Linked DNA regions of Homo sapiens: all the other regions are linked to region 4. The links come from fine-mapping of genetic effects on gene expression. A gene starts in region 4. Each other region holds a variant in brackets. All regions are shown on one strand. Distances are from middle to middle.

What was found. PIP is the estimated chance that this variant, and not a neighbour inherited with it, causes the effect.
Region 1: its variant is the best candidate, but not a certain one, in a credible set for the expression of SCARB1 in monocytes (Quach 2016, PIP 0.78).
Region 2: its variant is the best candidate, but not a certain one, in a credible set for the expression of SCARB1 in whole blood (TOPMed, PIP 0.89).
Region 3: its variant is the best candidate, but not a certain one, in a credible set for the expression of SCARB1 in monocytes after interferon gamma (Fairfax 2014, PIP 0.65).

Annotation. Positions count from the first base shown.
Region 1 is chr12:124,774,920-124,780,027 of GRCh38, reverse strand. SCARB1 (scavenger receptor class B member 1) reads left to right here. Exons shown (of 13, transcript NM_005505.5): 13 at 1,442-3,172. Among named protein-coding and RNA genes, the nearest start is that of SCARB1, 86 kb to the left of the region's middle. The variant G/A (reference allele first, on the strand shown) is at 2,981.
Region 2 is chr12:124,812,733-124,817,884 of GRCh38, reverse strand. SCARB1 (scavenger receptor class B member 1) reads left to right here. Exons shown (of 13, transcript NM_005505.5): 2 at 178-335; 3 at 2,771-2,912; 4 at 3,480-3,683. Among named protein-coding and RNA genes, the nearest start is that of SCARB1, 49 kb to the left of the region's middle. RefSeq lists enhancers at 657-1,156, 4,053-4,222. The variant T/C (reference allele first, on the strand shown) is at 2,448.
Region 3 is chr12:124,840,679-124,845,830 of GRCh38, reverse strand. All of the region lies in intron 1 of SCARB1 (scavenger receptor class B member 1), which reads left to right. Among named protein-coding and RNA genes, the nearest start is that of SCARB1, 21 kb to the left of the region's middle. The variant C/GC (reference allele first, on the strand shown) is at 2,532.
Region 4 is chr12:124,861,025-124,866,176 of GRCh38, reverse strand. SCARB1 (scavenger receptor class B member 1) reads left to right here and starts at 2,313. Exons shown (of 13, transcript NM_005505.5): 1 at 2,313-2,582. The coding sequence starts at 2,457. It overlaps LOC105370050 (a long non-coding RNA gene), which reads right to left and starts at 2,115. Exons shown (of 3, transcript XR_945488.3): 1 at 573-2,115. RefSeq lists enhancers at 109-278, 1,666-1,865, 3,959-4,485 and silencers at 2,096-2,775, 4,006-4,135.

The sequences.
Region 1 (5,108 bases), 86 kb after region 4:
ACAGCCTAGGGGTGGTTTCCCCTTTCTACTTCTGAGTGAGACCTTCTCAAGTCACGGCTCTTTGGGCCCACATGGCTAAGGTCTAGCCACCTGTGGGTGTCCTGTGCTGCCTCAGTGGGTGGTGTGGGGGCGGGGCTGACCTCCCCCGCGCCTGGCTCAGTGCAGCAGACCCTGGCCCCTGTGCCCGCTCTCTGCCCTGAGCAGGAGTTTGATTTTCCTACCCCGTGGTGAAGCAAGCACAGGTGGGCGGAGGTGGGCAGCGGTTTCCAGCCCCAGCCACCGGGGCAGGGAGGCCTCTGTTGCTCAGGGCAAGGGAGGCAGGGGGCTTAGTGGGACGAAGGCTCACCCCACACTCTTATCATTAGCATTATCTGTATTTTTAATTTTTAAGTTGAGAAATTTTCTACAACTGTCAAACTAGACAAATGACAGTATCCAGTTCCCCTCACCCAGACGCAGCCATTGCTGACAGCTGTCAGTGTTGAAGATGGCCAGCATCTCATGCCCTTGGTTTCACTCGTTCCCTGGGTGGCCCTCGTCCCCCTCCCCACGTCCTGCGCCCCGCATACCCTGAGCAGCCATGGCCAGGAACTTGGCACGTGGGTTTGTTTTTTCTGAATCTGCATGTGCGCAGCCATGAGCATGAGGTCACTTTTTGAATGTGACCGAAGCTGCATCCTGCTGCGTGTATTGCTGTGTGGCTGGCTTTCCTCCCTGTCTTCTGTTCAGGAATACTGTTCAGGCTGAATACCGTCCTGTGACATGGGTTTAAAAACACAGGCCAGGCATGGTGTCTCACGCCTGGAATCCCAGCGCTTTGGGAGGCTGAGGTGAGAGGATCGCCTGAGCCCAGGAGTTCGAGACCAGCCTGGGCAACATAGACCTGATCTCTACAAAAAATTAAAAAATGAGCCGGGCGTGGTGGTGGCACGTGTCATTGTCCCGGCCACTTGGGAGGCCGAGGTGGGAGGATCACTTGAGCCCAGGAGTTCAAGGCCGTGGTGAGCCATGATGGCACCACCGTACTCCAGCCTGGGCGACAGAGAGAGACCGTCTCTAAAAAATAAAAAATAAATCAACACATAAACATACGTTCTCCTCCTGAGGGACAGAGCTTGCCCCGGTTGTTCCATGTTGACTGTGCTGCACACAGGCCGCCCCCCTTGCTCTGCCCCTCACTGTATTAAGTCTCTTTGGGCCTCAGTTTCTCCATCTCTAAAGGAGGTCGGGGAGGCCAGGCGGGTGTTGAGTGAGATGAAGAGGCCCTTGGAGTCATTCCAGGAGTCTATAGGTGACTCCAGTCTCTTCTCACTTCTGACAGCCTGGTGGCGGGGGTGGAGTCTCTGCTGGGGATGTGGGTACAGGGCTGTGGTGGGCGGGGATGAGGGTGGGGTTTGGTGACAGGGCGTGGGTGGTCACCCAGCTTTGCCTTTCTCCACAGGGTCCTGAGGACACCGTGAGCCAGCCAGGCCTGGCCGCTGGGCCTGACCGGCCCCCCAGCCCCTACACCCCGCTTCTCCCGGACTCTCCCAGCGGACAGCCCCCCAGCCCCACAGCCTGAGCCTCCCAGCTGCCATGTGCCTGTTGCACACCTGCACACACGCCCTGGCACACATACACACATGCGTGCAGGCTTGTGCAGACACTCAGGGATGGAGCTGCTGCTGAAGGGACTTGTAGGGAGAGGCTCGTCAACAAGCACTGTTCTGGAACCTTCTCTCCACGTGGCCCACAGGCCTGACCACAGGGGCTGTGGGTCCTGCGTCCCCTTCCTCGGGTGAGCCTGGCCTGTCCCGTTCAGCCGTTGGGCCCAGGCTTCCTCCCCTCCAAGGTGAAACACTGCAGTCCCGGTGTGGTGGCTCCCCATGCAGGACGGGCCAGGCTGGGAGTGCCGCCTTCCTGTGCCAAATTCAGTGGGGACTCAGTGCCCAGGCCCTGGCCACGAGCTTTGGCCTTGGTCTACCTGCCAGGCCAGGCAAAGCGCCTTTACACAGGCCTCGGAAAACAATGGAGTGAGCACAAGATGCCCTGTGCAGCTGCCCGAGGGTCTCCGCCCACCCCGGCCGGACTTTGATCCCCCCGAAGTCTTCACAGGCACTGCATCGGGTTGTCTGGCGCCCTTTTCCTCCAGCCTAAACTGACATCATCCTATGGACTGAGCCGGCCACTCTCTGGCCGAAGTGGCCGCAGGCTGTGCCCCCGAGCTGCCCCCACCCCCTCACAGGGTCCCTCAGATTATAGGTGCCCAGGCTGAGGTGAAGAGGCCTGGGGGCCCTGCCTTCCGGGCGCTCCTGGACCCTGGGGCAAACCTGTGACCCTTTTCTACTGGAATAGAAATGAGTTTTATCATCTTTGAAAAATAATTCACTCTTGAAGTAATAAACGTTTAAAAAAATGGGATGCCTGCCTCTGTGACAGCCTTGTTTGCTGAGGTCGTGGGGGTGGGGGCCTCTGGGAAGTTCCGGGCTCCTCTTCTCTTGGTCAATAGCTCCTTTCTGGTGGCTGCCAAGAGCGTCTCTCCCAGGGCCGGGCTGCTGGCTTACCTTCCTGTTGTTTTCAAATTTCAACCTTGTGCAATGTTGAGTTTCATAGAAATACTGCATGAGTACGCCCTTGTTTAGAAGCAGCAGGGTCTGAGTCCCATCCCACAGCCCCCAGTGCAGACGCTTTTGCCACTTTTGCATGGGGCCCCCTGGATGTGTTTCTGTGCATTTATCTACAAATCCTGGTGCCCATAGGACATGCCCCGTGTTGTTCTAGGCCTTTGCTTTCTGCTCGTTACATAAATGGTGAAGAAGAGAAGCGGGTAAGAGAACAGATTGGAGCCATCTAAAAGTTCTCATCTTAAGTGTAGATCATTGCAAAGGATGGAATTTTCTCCGATTGTCATCATCGTTGATGTTTGAATATGAGACCATTTCATCAGTATTTAAGTGTGCCCGCTGGGATCTAACTAGGAGAGGAGAGGGTATTCACTGCC[G/A]AACATTTCAAAGAATATACGAACAAGCTCTTTTATGGTCAGAAATGTTAGCCCTTTTCCCCTTAAACTTGTATTTCCTTTCTTCTTCCCTCCTAAAATTTTATCTAAATGATATTTATATTTGATGCTTTTAAGCCTTTTATTAATCACTCCTATACTTGCCTGCAACATAAATATATAAGTTGAAGCAAACTTTTTTTTTTTATTTCTTGTGACCATCAAGGGTAAATTTTTTTAGGTCTGGGGCTGCCATAACAAAATACCATCAAGGCCGGGCGTGGTGGCACACGCCTGTAATCCCAGCCCTGTGGGAGGCCAAGACCGGAGGATTGCTTGATGCCAGGAGTTCAAGACTAGTCTGGGTAATATGGTGAGACCCTCATCAATACAAAAAAAATACAAAAATTAGCCAGGCGTGGTGGTGGGCGCCTGTGGTCCCAACTACTCAGGAGGCTGAGGTAGGATTGCTGGAAGCCAAGAGGTTGAGGCTGCAGTGAGCTGTGATCATGCCACTGCACTCCAGCCTGCGAGACAGAGTGAGACACTGTCTCAAAAAGAAAAAATACCATCAATAGGTGGCTTAAACCATTTATTTCTCACAGCTCTGGAGGCTGGAAGTCTGAGACCAGGGTTCCAGCAGGGTTGGGTTCTGGTGAGGCGTCTCTTCCTGGCTTCAGACGGCCGCCTTCTCTGTGTCCTCACATGGCCTTTCCTCGGTGTGAAAGGGGGAAGAGAGAGGGAGAGCGAGAGCTCTGTGGTGTCTCTTATAAGGACACTGATGCTATCAGATCAGGGCCTCATTTAATTATTTTCTTAGAGGCCCCATCTCCAGACACAGCCACACTGGAGGTTAGGGCTTCAACAGGAATTTTGGGTCAACACAAACATTTAGCCTATACCATCTGGATTGCCTTTCAAGTCTCAGGACACAATTGGTCAAAACTATATTACTATGTTTTATGTGACATATCAAAGTAGCAAAATTTTATTGGAATGCATGTCCTTTTGGTATGCATTTTATATATCTTTTTCATTTACAGATTAGAGTTGTGTGTGAGTGTGTGTACAATTCCATGAATTTTGACATGTTTATAGAGTTGAGTCATTACCCCTACAATCAAGACAAAACAATTTCATCATCCCCCAAGATTTCCTCATGTCTTCCCTTTGTTTTTGTTTGTTTTACAGTGGGCTCCCATAATTTTTTTTTTTTTTTTTTTGAGACAGAGTCTCGCTCTGTTGCCCAGGCTAGAGTGCAGTGGTTCAATCTTGACTCACTGCAGCCTTCACCTCCCAGGCTCAGGAGAGCCTCCTGACTTAGCCTTCCGAGTAGCTGGGACCACAGATGTGTGCCACCACACCTGGCTAATTTTTTTTTTGTAGAGATGGGGGTCTGGCTCTGTTGCCCAGGCTGGTCTCAAACTTTTGGCTTCAAGCATTAGTCCCACCTCAACCTACCAAAGTGCTGGGATTAGAGGCGTGAGCCACTGCACCCAGCCTGCGACCTGTGCTGCCTTCCTCCCACTTTGTAGGGAAGTCCCTCATCCCCATGCTTAGCCCTTGGCCACTAGCTATTTTTACCTTTTCCAGAATGTTCTAAATGGGATCTACAGCCTGTAACCCTCTGAGCCTGGCTTCCTTCACTCAGCACTGTCTCTAGATGCATGCCTGTTGTTGTGTGTAGCAATAGTTCCTTTCTTTTCACTGCTGAGCAGAACTCCATGGGGTGCACACACCAGTGCTTTTCAGCCGTTCACTTATTGAGGGACACGTAGAGTGGTTGCAGCCTTTGGCAATTGCATTAGTTGGTTTTCACGCCACTGATAAAGACATACCCAAGACTGGGTAACTTTTAAAGAAAAAAGGTTTCATGAACTCACAGTTCATATGGCTGGGGAGGCCTCACAATCATGGTGGAAGGCAAAGGAGAAGCAAAGTCATGTCTTACATGGGACCAGAGAAGAGAGAATGAGAGCCAAGTGAAAGGGGAAACCCCCGATCAAACCATCAGATCTTGTGAGACTTACTCACCACCAGGAGAACAGTATGGGGTTAACCGCCCGTATGATTCAATGATCTCCCACTGGCTCCCTCCCACAACATGGGAATTATGGGAACTACAATTCGA
Region 2 (5,152 bases), 48 kb after region 4:
ATAAGCTCCAGGTGCGACAGCCTCATGTGCGAAGGGCTTTCCCACCACCTCCTATCCCAAGCTCCCGCCGAGGAGCCCCTTCCCTGGCCGGGCTCGGGCAGCTGTTCCGGAGCCTTGTGGTGGGGCGTGGGGCCCTCATCACTCTCCTCACAAGCGTACTTGTCCCTTCCCCTGCAGAACGTGCGCATCGACCCCAGTAGCCTGTCCTTCAACATGTGGAAGGAGATCCCTATCCCCTTCTATCTCTCCGTCTACTTCTTTGACGTCATGAACCCCAGCGAGATCCTGAAGGGCGAGAAGCCGCAGGTGCGGGAGCGCGGGCCCTACGTGTACAGGTGAGGCTGTGTCCAGGTGAGGGTGGAGGGGCCGGCTGAGGCTGGGCAGGGGAGGGGTCTCAGAGTGGACGGGATGGGGAGGCTGCTGACTGAGCCCCAGAGATTGTTCCGGAAGCAGGCAAGTCATAGTCGGGGTAAGTGCTAGTCCCAGAGAAGTTTTTGTTTTAGGGTTTTTTTTTTTTTTTTTTTTTTTTTTAGAGATGGGATCTTGCTATGTTGCCCAGGCTGGTTTTGAAGTCCTGGGCTCAAGCGATCCTCCGCCTCAGCCTCTCAAAGTGCTGGGATTACAGGTGCGAATCACCAGACGTTGCCTAGAGAGGTTCTTTATGGAGCAGGGAGGGACCAATGGTGTGCGTCTGGGTGGAGGGTGCATGTGTGAGTTACACACATACATACACACACATACACATACACATACACACATACATACATACACACGTACATACACATACACACACACATACATACACACACATGTACCTACACATGCATACACACATACACACACACACACACACACACACACACATGCATGACCAGGAGCAGGGACCGACCCCCCAGACCCTATCTGGGCCAGAGGACCGGGTGGGTCAGCACGGGAAGGGGTCAGCTGTTTGTGGAACATGCTGGCCCAAGGACCACAGAGTTGTGCCTTTGCTTTCTGCTTGTCCTGTACCTGGCTGTGGCCTAGGGGAAGTGACTTCATTCCTCTGAGCCTCAGTTTGCCCGTCTGCAGACTGGAGAGACACAAGAGCCCCTTCATGGGGTCACCGGGACACTCAGGATGCACTCGGAGCTCTGAGACGGCTGGCGGATGTGCCTGTTACAACTCCCTTACCTCCTGGCGTTTTCACAGCACCTCCCCTCCTCCACACCCCCACTTCCCAGTTCACAGACAGGGGAGCTGACTTGCCCCCGGCACACGGTGTTCCAGGGATGGGGCGGGCAGAGGGTGTTCCCGCTGTTGGAGACCCACAGTCTGGTTCTGGGAAAGCCAAGATGAAAACCCAGCAAATGTGCCTGAGGTTTGGGAATGGGAAACATGAATCAGCTGCTGCATTCCGTTCACTCATTCACTCATTCGCTCGTTCATTTAACAAATGTTTACTGAGCACCTGCTAGGTGTTGGCTGCCGTTCTAAGTACAGGGGACCCAGCAGTGGACAGAATGGGCAAAAATGCCAAAGCTCTCTATACTCCTTCATTCTGTGAGCACTGACTGAGCACCTCCTGTGTGCTGGGGGCGCAGGCAGACCAAGGCCCTGCCTCACCAAGCTGATGTTCTGATGGGGAGAGAGTAAAGAAGTGGACAAATAAGGGGAAATCAGGCAGCCATCAGTATTGTGCAGACAAAACAGTGTGAAGCCGGAGTGCAGGAGGGAGGGTGGCCTTGGGGCTCGGTCTGACTGGAGGGTCGGGAGCACATCTGCAAAGGGACACTCACTGGACCCGCATGGTGGGAAGAGGCCCTGGGGAGACAGAGTCCCGGGCAGAGCATGTGCAAAGGTCTGAAGGCTGGGACAGAGGCCTGTGCGGCTGGGGTTACGAGGGAGGGAGACAGTGGAGAGACGAGGCCTGAGCCTTGCTGAGGGCCTCAGAGGTCACGTTAGGAGCCTGATTTTAACCTGCATGCAAAGTGGGGTTGTGGTCCAGAGCATGGCACGATCTGATTTCTACTTTTTTTTTTGAGACGGAGTCTCTCTTTCACCCAGGTTGGAGTGCGGTGGCGCGATCTCGGCTCACTGCAACGTCCGCCCCCCAGGTTCAAGCGATTCTCCTGCCTCAGCCTCCCGAGTAGCTGGGATTACAGGCATCTGCCACCATGCCCAGCTAATTTTTGTATTTTTAGTAGAGACGTGGTTTCGCCATGTTGGGCAGGATGGTCTTGAACTCCTGACATCAGGTGATCTGCCCACCTCAGCCTCCCAAAGTGCTGGGTTTACAGGCATGAGCCACTGCTCCCGACCTGATTTCCACTTTTCAAAGATTCTTCTGGATGGTGGAGAGTGGCTTGGAGAGATGAGAGATCATAAGGACAGCAGCAGCAACAGTCACAGCAGCTGATGTTTACCTCGTGCTTTCTCTGCACCCGGCGGCTGTGTTGATTGCTTTC[T/C]GGGTATCTGATTGCTTAATCCCCACAGCTGCCCTGTGAAGTAGGGCTTGTGATTACTTCCTTTTGTAGATGGAGAGACGATGGCCGTGTTGGGTGGGGGAGAGCAGAACGAGGCCGGGTGGGCGGCGACACCATGTCCTGCAGTGGGCAGGCGGCGGGAGGGACAGACTTGGCGAAGGGGCCGAGCTCAGCTTTGGCTGTGGGGCCGGAGGTGTGCACAGACGTCCAGGGCCCCTGGTTCCCAGGCAGGCATTGCAGGCGAGTAGAAGGGAAACGTCCCATGCAGCGGGGCGGGGCGTCTGACCCACTGGCTTCCCCCACAGGGAGTTCAGGCACAAAAGCAACATCACCTTCAACAACAACGACACCGTGTCCTTCCTCGAGTACCGCACCTTCCAGTTCCAGCCCTCCAAGTCCCACGGCTCGGAGAGCGACTACATCGTCATGCCCAACATCCTGGTCTTGGTGAGGCTGCCCTGTGGCCCACGCCGCCTCGCACCCTGACCTCGTCCCCTGTCTCTCCTCCCGCCTGCCCCTTGTGCAGAGAGCAGTCCCTGAGGTGGTCGGAGCGTGGGGACTCACGCCTGGTGGGTGGCTTTCGGCCCTGTGCTGTCTCCACCACCCCCAGTGGGTTCTGAGTTTCCCAGGTGGGTCCACCTGTCTTGGTTTGGAAGTCCTGGCCAAAGTACTTTTTTTTCCCTTTTCAATTTACATTTCTGAGATCTCCAAAAGGGGCTGTCTTGTTGAGGGCTGAGCCACAGGCCCGCCTCTGGGACTGGGGCTGGAGTTCACTTAGCCTGAGTCCAGTGGGGTGCAAGGGGGAGAAGGGGTTCTCGGGAGCACATGTGGCCTTGGCACTGGAGGAGCAGAGGGTGGTTCTGGTGTCCCAGATGCCCCACGTGGCCACTCCAGGGGCCTCCTGCACCCCAGCATTTCCCTTCATGGGCTCTTTGCTGTGAGGCCCAGCTGGGGCCAAGGGAGGATGGGCCAGCCACGTCCAGCCTCTGACACTAGTGTCCCTTCGCCTTGCAGGGTGCGGCGGTGATGATGGAGAATAAGCCCATGACCCTGAAGCTCATCATGACCTTGGCATTCACCACCCTCGGCGAACGTGCCTTCATGAACCGCACTGTGGGTGAGATCATGTGGGGCTACAAGGACCCCCTTGTGAATCTCATCAACAAGTACTTTCCAGGCATGTTCCCCTTCAAGGACAAGTTCGGATTATTTGCTGAGGTACGTGTGGCCTGGTGAGAAGCCAAAGATTCAGGCCTGTGTCCTGTCTTCCCCTCACACAGCCTGGACACTGGTCACCAGCTTGCTTTGTAGCTGGCTGGGGATCTAGTGGCTGTGGGTTGTAAGTGACTGAGAACCTGACTCAAACCGGCTTGAGTGAAATGGGGAATGTTGGGGCTCATAGAACTGAAAATGCTAGGGTTGGATTCAGGTACAGCTTGATCCAGGCTCAAATGATGTGACTGGGCCTTAGCTTAGCAAATTGGAGGCTTTGCTGGAGGAAGGGGGCATGGCTGCTGGGGAGTAATATCACAAGCTGACTCTTAATCTTGACTCTTGGCAACCTGGTAGGGTCACTGACTGGGCTTCGGAGCCAACATCTCGTCCATGGAGGGTCTGACCCTGACCTTGGCTCCCTCACCGCAGGTTTCACTGAGTCCTTGGGACTGCTCCAGCCTCAGCCATCTCTTTGGTCTCTGCTGATCAGGGTAGAGTGCTGGGGGGGATATCGTGGTGCTGCGTGTGATAGATACTCAGTACGTTTTTGTCAAGGGTGACGGGCTCCTGTCGTGTGGGTAAATGAGCAAGTTTGGGCTAAGTGGCATGATGCTGTAAAGGCATCTTGTAAATCCTGAAGTGCTTTGCAAATGAAAGTTATTACAAAGTCCCTAGTTTAGTATAATCTACGTTTGACTGCATATAATGAAAACCTCACAAGAAAAGTCTAGCGGTAGGCTGTTCAGTGTTGGTGTGGTGGCTTCATGGTCTTAAGTGATCTGGAAGCCTTCTACTACTGTGCTCTGCCATCCTTGGCATGTGGTTTTCATCCTCAAGATAACCTCATTGTCCAAGTTGGCTGCTAGAGTGTCAGCAATCACATCACATTCCAGGCAGCACAGCAAGAAGGAAAAAATGGTGGGGCTTTGGGGAGCAGATGGAGGAACTGGGGGTAAAACAGCGTGTTCCAGTTTCCTCCCTCTTAGGGAGGAAGAAAACCAATGTCCACTTCCTTTCTATTGGCCAGAACTGAGTCACATGGCCACACCTAGCTCCAGGGGAAGCTGGAAAGGTAGCCTTTTAGCTGGGTGTGCTGATGCTCTGAGTATGGTTTGGGTTTTGTATGAAAGAGTAAGGAGAGATTGGGCTTTGGGTAGTAACTGGCAGTTTCTGATGCTCTCCGTCCATTATAATGATCATTTAAGTATCCTATTGGGTGAGCATTTATTAATAATAACAATAATAATGAAAATAAAGACTATCATTTTGAGCTCTTACTGTGTCCGGTGCACTGTACCTGGCCGTTTTTGCACATGAGTCCCTTTAATGCTCCCCTTTGTAGTGGCTCTGGTTATTCTTGGCTCCACATGGGCACGTGACAGACACACCCGGGATGCTGGGCTGGGGCCTTGTGCTGGGTCCTGCTCTGGAGGTCTGTGATGGGTGCAGTCACTCAGCCGGGCAACCTTGGA
Region 3 (5,152 bases), 20 kb after region 4:
TTTCACCATGTTGGCCAGGCTAGTCTCAAACTCCTGACCTCAGGTCATCCACCTGCCTTGGTCCCAAAGTGTTGGGATTACAGGCCTGAGCCACCGTGCCCGGCCCTGGACATTTCTTTTTTTTTTGAGGCAGAGTCTTGCTGTGTCACCCAGGCTGGAATGCAGTGGCGTGATCTCGGCTCACTGCAACCTCCGCCTCCTGGGTTCAAGCGATTCTCCTGCCTCAGCCTCCCCAGTAGCTGGGACTACAGGCGCCCGCCACCACGCCCGGCTAATTTTTTTTTTTTTTTTTTGTATTTTTAATATAGACGGGGTTTCACATGTTGGCCAGGCTGGTCTCAAACTCCTGACCTCAGGTCAAACACCTGCCTCGGTCCCAAAGTGTTGGGATTACAGGCCTGAGCCACCGTGCCCGGCCCTGCACATTTCTTATAAATGAAATCATGCAATGTGTGGCCTTAAGTGCCTGGCTGCTTCCGCTTAGCGTCATGTTTTGGGGTTCATCCGTGGTGTGGCATGTGGAGTGCTGCTTTCCTTTTTGTAGCTGAGCAGGCCTCCACGGTGCGGGTGCACTGCATGCTGTTTTTCCGCGCCTCTGTGGATGGGCGTCTGGGCTGGTGGCTGCCGGGAGCGGTGCTGCTGGGAGCGCGCATGTTCGGGAACTCGCTTGGCTTCTGCTTTCAGTGGTCTCCTTTTATGCCCTCCTTCCCCTCACCCCTCTCGCTCTTCAGCCCGCCCTGCCCCTGCGCCCATCCTCTGTGTGGCTGCGTCTGTAAACCTGAGTGTGTCCTTGGACCTTGTGCAGTCCTAGATTCCGGAGCCTGCAGGTGTGGGTCCAGATCCCGGCCCTGCCTCCTGCTGCTGTGTGACCATGGACAGGCTCTTCGAGTCTCTGGTCTCTGGTGGGTGTCTGAGTCTGCATGGGAGGCAGAGGTTGCAGTGAGCCGAGATCGTGCCACTGCACTCCAGTCTGGGCAACAGAGCAGGACTCTGTCTCAAAAAAAAAAAAAAAAGAAAGAAAGAAAGAAAAAAATGTCCATAACAGGTGCATGGGCCAAAGACCATGTATTCCCGTACAGTTCTGGAGGCCGGAAGTCTGAGATCAGGATGTTGGCAGGGCTGGCTTCTCCGGAGACCCCTCTCCCGGCCTCATAGACGCCACCTTCTCCCTGTGTGCGCACATCCCCGGTGACTCTCTGCGGGTCCTAATCTCCTCTTTTAAGGGCGTCAGTCAGATTGGATTAGGGCTCACCCCACTGACCTCATTTAAACGTAATCACCGATTTAAAGGCCCTGCCCCCCGCGCCAATACAGTCACATTCTGATGCACCGAGGGTTAGGGCTGCAACATGGGAATTTTGGGGGGACACTGTTCAGCTCATAATAGTAGGGTGCCTATAAAATGGGCTAAAACCATGCCTTCCTATAGGATTCAGTGAGGACCGAGGGAGCTAGAGGTGGAAGTGCTTTGAGCTGGGGGTGGCACAGGGAGGCCCCCTTCATGTGGCCTGTCACGTCTGAGGAGAGGGCGGCTTTTCCATGCCATGCACGGTAACTCGTGTCAACATTCCTCGTGCTGCCCTGTTTAAAATCTATCCGTGTTCCTATGTGTGTATCAGGCTTATTGCTTCCTTCTGCTGCCTGGACCCCCTAATTCATGTTCATCCTGTTGTATTTATTCCCTTAGCGACGGGGGTACCTTGGTTATGTCTGACTCCTGCCTCCACAAACAGCAAATATGCTGGACCCTGCTGCCTTGTACTTCTCCACAATTTCCTGGGGATGCGCAGGAGTGGAATTGCTGTAGGGCAGAGGGGGAGCCATTTTCACCCAACATGCCTTCCAGAAGGGCCACTGCTGTTCACCCTCCCAGCTCTCACATCCTCTCCAGCACCTGAGACGATTTAGTCTTCGAGAATGTCTGGGGTCTCAGTGAGGGTACGTGGTGCAGCATTGTTCTCATGTGCTTTTCTGAGGTGTGAATTTGAGTCTTCTTCCTTTCATAAGTCCTCAGGTGGGGGTCTGAGGCTCAGAGATTTTGAGGGCCATGTTGGAGGGTCACAGAGCAAACTGGGGCTAGACCCCACCAGCTTGGGCTTGGAGGGCCTCCAGCTTGGATGTAGGGCCCTTCATAAATCCAGGATGATCTCATCTTGGGATCCTTAACTTGGTAACATCTGTAGAGACCCTATTTTTAAATAAGGCCACATTCTGAGGTTCTAGGTGGGCATGAATTTGGCAGGGGACATGCTTCAGACCAGCACTATGTGTGCAGGTGCCCAATCCTCAGATCTGCAGAGCTCTGGGTTCAAATCCAGGTCCCATTACTTGGGTCCTGTGGAAACTCACTTTTTTCCTAAAAGCCGATTTCCACCTCTGCACATGGGGCCAATGTTCTTCCATCTCACAAACCAGAAGTCAAGGCCAGGCGCAGTGGCTCATGCCTGTAATCCCAGCACTTAGCGAGGCAGAGGTGGGAGGATCGCCTGAGGCCAGGAGTTCAAGACCAGCCTGGGTAACATAGTAAGACC[C/GC]CCCCCCCCATCTCCACAGAAAGTAAGAAACAAAAACAAAACAAACTGGAGGCCAAGGAGAGCAGCTGCGGATGGTCACGTGCCTCTCCCTGGGTGTGCCCAGCTCTTACCCAGAAAGCCCTGGCTGGCATTAAAAATAAGGAAGGTAAAATAGGGATATGATCAAACAAATTAAAAGTGTACGGAAAAAGAGTCAGCCTTCTGGAAAGATCACAGCACGACACTGCTCCCCTGGCCCCAGCTGGTCTTTGCTCCAGAGGTGACTTGGGTTAATAGTTCCTTGTTTTTCCTTCCTGCAATAAACATGTTTGCGTCCACAGAGGGGGACCCACACCCGTATCCTTCCCGTCCGTGGCACACGTCCCACAAGGGCACACGGTTCCCATGCTTTTCTGCCTCTTGGCTGGGGCACCTAGGTGGATCTTGGCATCTCTTGTTCCCGCACAGAACCCATCCTCATCCGAGCCCTGGGCCTCTGTCTCCCAGCAGGCTTTGCAAATAGGACCTTGTAAAGGACAGGGCTGTGTTTCCCAAAGGCCAGAGCAGTGAAGAGGGGCATGTGGGGTCGTGGGGCACACCTCTAGGACATTGGGGTCCAGGGGTCCTTTCCAGTAAGACCTTGCTGTGCTGGAAACACCCCTGTGTCTTTCAGGGCTGTTTTCAGAGTCAGGGTTGATGTGACCGCCACGTTTCCTCTGGGCCTGACAGCTGTAATCTGTGGCTTGGGAGTGCAGATAAGTGTGATGAAGCTGCCAGCAGGCCTGGGCATCTGTGTCCTTGGTGGGGGCAGGGAGAAGAGACAGGGACTGGGATGCTGGGGCCAGGGCCAGAGCCCCGCTGAGATATGAGGTCCCCTTCCACCCTGGGAGGTGTGTGGGGAGGAGCTTCCTCGAACCCCTTTAGCTGGGACGGATGGAAGAATGAGCAGCTTTGCATTTCCGGCAGCGTCTCCAGCTTTCCTGGGGCTTTCTCGGCTTGTGTTATTGATGAACTCCAGTGCGTGAGGCCATTGGAGCCTTAGAGGCCTGTTTCCCCTGGACAGGTGACTGCCTGGGCCAGAGGCAGCACTGGCATGGTGCCCTCTTGCTCCTGGCTGGGAGTGACACGGGGCGTGGGGCGCTTTGCATTCATCCCCAGCTGTTTGGGCACATTTACAACCCTCATTTTACAGATGGGACAAACCCCAGTGGAGAATCTGCTCCGGGCAGCTGTTTATGAACCACCTGAATGGGGCACACAGGACTGTGGGAGGAGGAGGAGGGACCCCCAGGGCTGAAGTGGCAGGGAAAGCTACTCATCCTTTCGGCCCATGTTTACTGCTCACAAATTGTGGGCCAGGTCTCGTGCCAAGTGTTGGAGCTACAGCCGTGGACAAAAGAGACCTGGTCCTGCTCACGGCAGCTACGCTTTAGCAGGAGGGATGGGCCATGGAGAAGCACATGGAAGAGGTGGGGTGGCGAGAAGAGCTAGGAAGGGGACGAGGCAGGTGAGCTGACATGGAGCCACTGCTGGGAAGGGGACTCCTTCTGATGTGGGAGTCAGGAGGGCCTCTCAGAGGAGGGGCTCTATGAGCTGGGGAGCAGCTGGCAAAGAGCACAGCAGGTTCAAAGGCCGGAGGTGCGAAGGAGCCTGCTGTGTTGGAGGAAGAGGGAGCAGGCCAGTGGGGTTGGGAGAAGTGACTGGAGGGGGTGAAAGGGGACAGGCATGTGGGGGCCTTGCAGGACACCTGGAGGAGTTCAGATTTGGTTTTCAATTCCATGGAGGGTTCTGAGCAGGGAAGAGCCATGATCTGACTCAGTATTTTTTTTTTTTTTTTTTGAGACAGAGTCTTTCTCTGTCGCCCAGGCTGGAGTGCAGTGGCATGGTATCAGCTCACTGCAACCTCCGCCTCCCGAGTTCAAGCAATTCTCTTTTTTTTTTTTTTTTGAGACGGAGTCTTGCTCTGTTGCCCAGGCGGGGGAGTGCAGTGGCGCAATCTCCGCTCACTGCAAGCTCCGCCTCCCTGGTTCATGCCATTCTCCTGCCTCAGCCTCCCGCGTAGCTGGGACTACAGGCGCCCGCCACCACGCCCGGCTAATTTTTTTGTATTTTTAGTAGATACGGGGTTTCACCGTGTTAGCCAGCATGGTCTCAATCTCCTGACCTCGTGATCCGCCCACCTCGGCCTCCCAAAGTGCTGGGATTACAGGCGTGAGCCACCGCGCCCAGCCTCAAGCAATTTTCTTGCCTCAGCCTTCTGAGTAGCTGGGATTACACGTGCGTGCCACTACACTCGGCTAATTTTTGTATTTTTCGTAAAGATGGTGTTTCACCATGTTGGGCAGGCTGGTCTTGAACCCCTGACCTCAGGTGATCCACCTGCCTTGGCCTCCCAAAGGGCTGGGATTACAGGTGTGAGCCACCACGCCCAGCCTGACTCAGTCTTGAAGAGCTCTCTGGCTGCTGTCTGGAGAAGGGAGTGTCGGGGGCCAGGCTGGAAGCGGGGAGGCAGAGAAGATGGTGATTTGAGCCAGGTGGGGGTAGTTTTCTAAATGGAAAGAAGGGAACATATTCGAGTTTTTTTTCAGGGAGAGTCAACAAGATAGGTCAGTGGACTGGGGTGCGAGGGAAGGAGAGGAATC
Region 4 (5,152 bases):
TGGAAAGGGGCTCTTCTAATCCCCGTTTCGTAGATGAGGAGACTGAGGCACAGAAAGGCCCAAACCACTTGCCCCAGGACTCCAATGTGGGAAACCCCAGAGCCTGGATTTCTCTGAACCTGTCCCCCGGGGCTACCACAGTCTCACCTCAGCCACTCTGACCTCCCTCAGGAGTTGGGCCCTGCCCCTTGGGGCACTGGACCATATTCGGCCTCCTTAGAGGAAGGCAGTGCCAGGCAAAGCTGTCTAACGAGAACATAGCAGGTGCTCTGTAAATATTGGTTCAGGCGAAGACATGTTGCTTAAGGATGGCCCTGCGAGAAGGCTGCTTTCTTCTGGAGTTAAATAAGAGGTTTAGAAAGCCTCCCTCGGAGCACTCAAGGACTGAGCCTGCCTTACCCACGTGCTGGGGACACCACCCTCCTGTCCCTGTGTAACCCAGGAGTCTCTTCTCAGTAACTTCATTCAGAAAATGAGGGGACTGGCCAGCACTTCAGGGACCAGAAGGCAGGCCAGGTGGGGTGTGGTGGAGGACTTCAGGGGGGCGTGGAGGGCTTCAGGGATACACTCACCCATCTAAGGGCAACTGCCACTTAGTGCCAGCCCACTTCTCTCCCTTTTTTCTTTTTTCTTTTTCCCCCAGGGTCTTGCTGTCACCCAGGCTGGAGTGCGGTGGTAAGATCAGGGCTCACTGCAGCCTTGAACTCTGGGACTCAAGGGATCCTTCTGCCTCAGCCTCCTGAGTAGCTGGGGCGACAAGCGCATGCCACTGTGGCTGGTTAATCTTTTCATTTTCTGTAGAGACTGGTCTCACTATGTTGCCCAGGCTGGTCTCCAACTAGTGGCCTCAAGTGATCCCTCACCTGGACCTTCCAAAGTGCTGGGATTACAGTTGTGGGCCACCATGCACCGGGCCTGTTCTGTTTTCTTGGAGCACTTGCCTGCAATTATCCTTCATTCATTTGCTCACGTGCTCATCATTGGTTTCCCTCTTCATTAGAAAGTGGGGACTTGGTTTGGGTTAACTAAGCTTCCCTGTGCATCAGTTTTCATTTCTTTCTTTCTTTTTCTTTTTCTTTTCTTTTTTTTTTTTTTTGAGATGGAGTTTCGCTCTTGTTGCCCAGGCTGGAGTGCAATGGCGCTATCTCGGCTCGCCACAACCTCCGCCTCCCGGGTTCAAGCGATTCTCCTGCCTCAGCCTCCCGAGTAGCTGAGATTACAGGCATGCGCCACTACGCCTGGCTAATTTTGTATTGTTAGTAGAGACGGGGTTTCGCCATGTTGGTCAGGCTGGTCTCCAACTCCCGACCTCAGGTGATCCATGAAGTCCACCCGCCTCGGCCTCCCAAAGTGCTGGGATTACAGGCGTGAGCCACCTCCCAGTTTTCTTATTGTAAAATGGAGCCATTGTGTGCAAAGCACTCAGGACAGGGGCCAGCACCTAGAAGGCTCCTCAGTCATTCATTCTAGAATATTTACTGTGAGCAGGCATTCCCTGCCAGGCCACGTTCTAGAGCTCAGGACGCGTGGGGGGGGGGGCCCGCCTCACGGGTTGGCATCCCAGTTGGAGCACATGGTCAGAATGCAAGGACGCAAATGAACGTGAACCTGCCAGGGGGTGCTCAGTCATAGGGTGATGGTGGCACCAGCGTTACGAAGGATAGGGCCAGGCGGATACCTGGGAGAACAGAATTGCCTGTGCAGGGTGTATGGAGGCCCTGGGGCTGGAGCCTGCGGGGCTTCTTCCAGGGACAGTGAGGCTGGAGATGGACTGCGGAGATGAGGGTCTAGAAGGTGGTGGCGGGGCATGTGGACCGTTGTAAGGGCTCTGGGGTTCCTGGGTGGGCTGGCGAAGTCCTACTCACAGTGACCAACCATGATGATGGTCCCGATAGAGGAGGAGAGGGAGGAGGAGGGAAAAGGAAGGGTGAGGGGCTCAGAGGGGAGAGCTGGGAGGAGGGGAGACATAGGTGGGGGAAGGGGTAGGAGAAAGGGGAAGGGAGCAAGAGGGTGAGGGGCACCAGGCCCCATAGACGTTTTGGCTCAGCGGCCACGAGGCCTCCTCAGCTCCCGCCCCAAAACGGAAGCGAGGCCGTGGGGGCAGCGGCAGCATGGCGGGGCTTGTCTTGGCGGCCATGGCCCCGCCCCCTGCCCGTCCGATCAGCGCCCCGCCCCGTCCCCGCCCCGACCCCGCCCCGGGCCCGCTCAGGCCCCGCCCCTGCCGCCGGAATCCTGAAGCCCAAGGCTGCCCGGGGGCGGTCCGGCGGCGCCGGCGATGGGGCATAAAACCACTGGCCACCTGCCGGGCTGCTCCTGCGTGCGCTGCCGTCCCGGATCCACCGTGCCTCTGCGGCCTGCGTGCCCGGAGTCCCCGCCTGTGTCGTCTCTGTCGCCGTCCCCGTCTCCTGCCAGGCGCGGAGCCCTGCGAGCCGCGGGTGGGCCCCAGGCGCGCAGACATGGGCTGCTCCGCCAAAGCGCGCTGGGCTGCCGGGGCGCTGGGCGTCGCGGGGCTACTGTGCGCTGTGCTGGGCGCTGTCATGATCGTGATGGTGCCGTCGCTCATCAAGCAGCAGGTCCTTAAGGTGGGTGAGGGAGACCCCAGGGGGTCCGCGCACGGACCCGGGCTGTTGGGCGCTGGGCGCCGGGAGGACCCGCGCGTTGCGGTGGGTGGGCGACCGCAGCGGAATCGGCGCCCGGGCCTGGCGCCGCAGAGCACGAGGGAGGCCAGGCGCTTCGGGAGGGGCTGCTGCCCGCCTCCCCACCACCCTCACCGCCCCAGACTGAGGCTAGGGGGGAACCCAGGGGCTTTGCTGGAGGCGCAGGCCAGGGTTGGGGAGGCCTGGACGGGAGACCACCCGGGCGCCTGACCCGCCCTAAAGGGTCTGGGCGCCCACGACGGATCAGGAGTGTGGACAGGTTGCTTCCGTGGTGCCGCCCGAAGGAGCCCAAGAGTGTGTGAACGTCTGCTTTCACAGCAGCCGGTAGCAGGGTCCGGTAAAATTAGAGCTGCACTTTGCTTGTATCCTGTGAGCCCAGGAGGACAGGAACCTTCTGTGAGACCCACGTGGGTGCCCAGCTCACATGGTAGGTGCTCAGCTGAGCATCCTCCACTGCCCAGAATCTCCCCATAGGAACCCTCTCCCAGAGGCAGAATGCGCGACTCTGTTCTCCCTGCTCACTGCCTCCATGATTCAGTCTGGAAACTATAAGCCGCTTTTCTCCCCAGATTCATGCAGAGGCAGGCAGCAGCCCAAGGTCCTCTGAGTGCACGCAGCCTTAGGTCTTTCCTCTGATCCTAACTTTGCATACCATTGCCCTTTCAACCAGGGAGACAGATTAGGCGGTCAGCTGGTCTGCAGACGGACAGACTCTGCCCTGGGTGCCTGGGTGGCCTGTTTGAATGAGCCTGGAGTTAGGGAAGGGCTGGGAGATTGCAGAGTATCACATTTGAACTAAAAGCCATTTAGAGTTTTGAAGCCCTGGGAACCCACACATGCAGTGGCGGGGAGGGGAAACTGGGGCTCACTCTTATCAAAGTTCTAGCCAGATGCAGAGCTGGGGTGAAGATGTGGACATTGTCACTCTAATGGACGTCTTTTCCCCTTGGCCTGCCTCTTTGGACTGGGTTTCTTAAGAATGGTTCCTTGTCCACATTTCATGTCTGTTCCCTCATTCACAGAGCGAATGAATGAGTGAATGAATGAAGGATCTGCTTAGATCTGGCTGCCACACTTCTTGGGACCCAGCTAGCTGGCCTTAAAGATGGAGCAACATATGGTCTCTCTCAAGGTCTCTGGGTGAGCAGTTGTCTAGGGCATCTTAGCCACGTTGTGTCTATTTTTGATTTTTCAAATCTTGTCCCGCCAAAGCCTGTAATCTGACTGCAAAGAGGTCCCGGTGGATGGTGACACTGTCTCTGGGGATGGCAGGAAAATCAGCAGAATGGCCTCTTCTCCCCCATGACAGCTCAGAGGCTTTCTCTGTTACACTGAGGGAGCTTTATTTTTCTGTGGCCTACTCATACTGAAACGTGTGTGTCAGTGACAGCCTTGTGGCTGCTGCAGTGCCAGGACCCCACTGTGTGTATGCAGGGTCCCTAGAGGGGCTATCACTCAGGCAGTTCAAGCATGTGACCCTGTGCTGTGAGTGAGCACCTGGTCTCTTGCTATGGGAGTGTGGGGACTTATGCCAGGTAAAGAGTCTTGCCAACTCAGTTATTCGGGGGCTTATTTCAAGGTGTTTTCTTTCTCAGGATGTCATCAGGTTAAGTATGTCAGTAGGATGTGTGTGTGTGTGTGTGCACCACACATGCATGCACCACCAAATTTCCCCACTCCTCTCCTGGGCTTCTAAAGAGGAAAACCACATTGTCCTCAATTGTCCTGGAGCTAGGAGCATCTGGCTTAAAGTTGAACAGGAGCCTCCCAGCATCCTTCTGTGGATATCCCAAAGGCGATTGGTTTGGGGCCGAGTGGTGTGAAGGCAGGAAGACACGCCCAGCCCAAGACGGCCACTTCTGGAACCGCCCAGGCTGGAGCAGCGGCCAAGTGCCTTAGCATGGAAGAAGAGAGCCTGTGTTCAGGGGACCAGGCGGGTGAGACACACGCATAAGCAGGGACTGCCCGCTGGTGTTTTCTTTGGCTACATGAGTCTGTGTGCAACTTGAATGGGAGGCCTTGTGCTTTTATTTTTTTTTTTTAATGTGCTTTTTGGTTAACAACAGAAGTCCCTACAGTTGGCCCTCTGTGTCTGCAGGTTCTGCATCCGTGGATTCAATCAACTGCAGATGAAAAGTTTTCAGAAAAAATCCCCCCAAAATAACAATACAACTAAAAAAAGACATAAAAACAATACTGTATAACAACTATTGACATAGCATTTACATCGTATTAGGTATTATAAGTAACCTAGAGATGATTTAAAGAATACGGGAGGATGCGCATAGGTGATATGCAAATACCACAGCATTTTATGTCGGGGACTTGAGCATCTGCAGATCTTGGTATCTATGGGGGTCCTGAAACCAATTCCCCTCTGACATTGAGGGACGACTTTATATAAAATATATGAATACTTGCTCGTAAAAAAAAGTTCAAATGGAGGAAAAGAGAGAAAGTTTCCCCCATTTTATTCCCCTCCTGAGCTATTATCA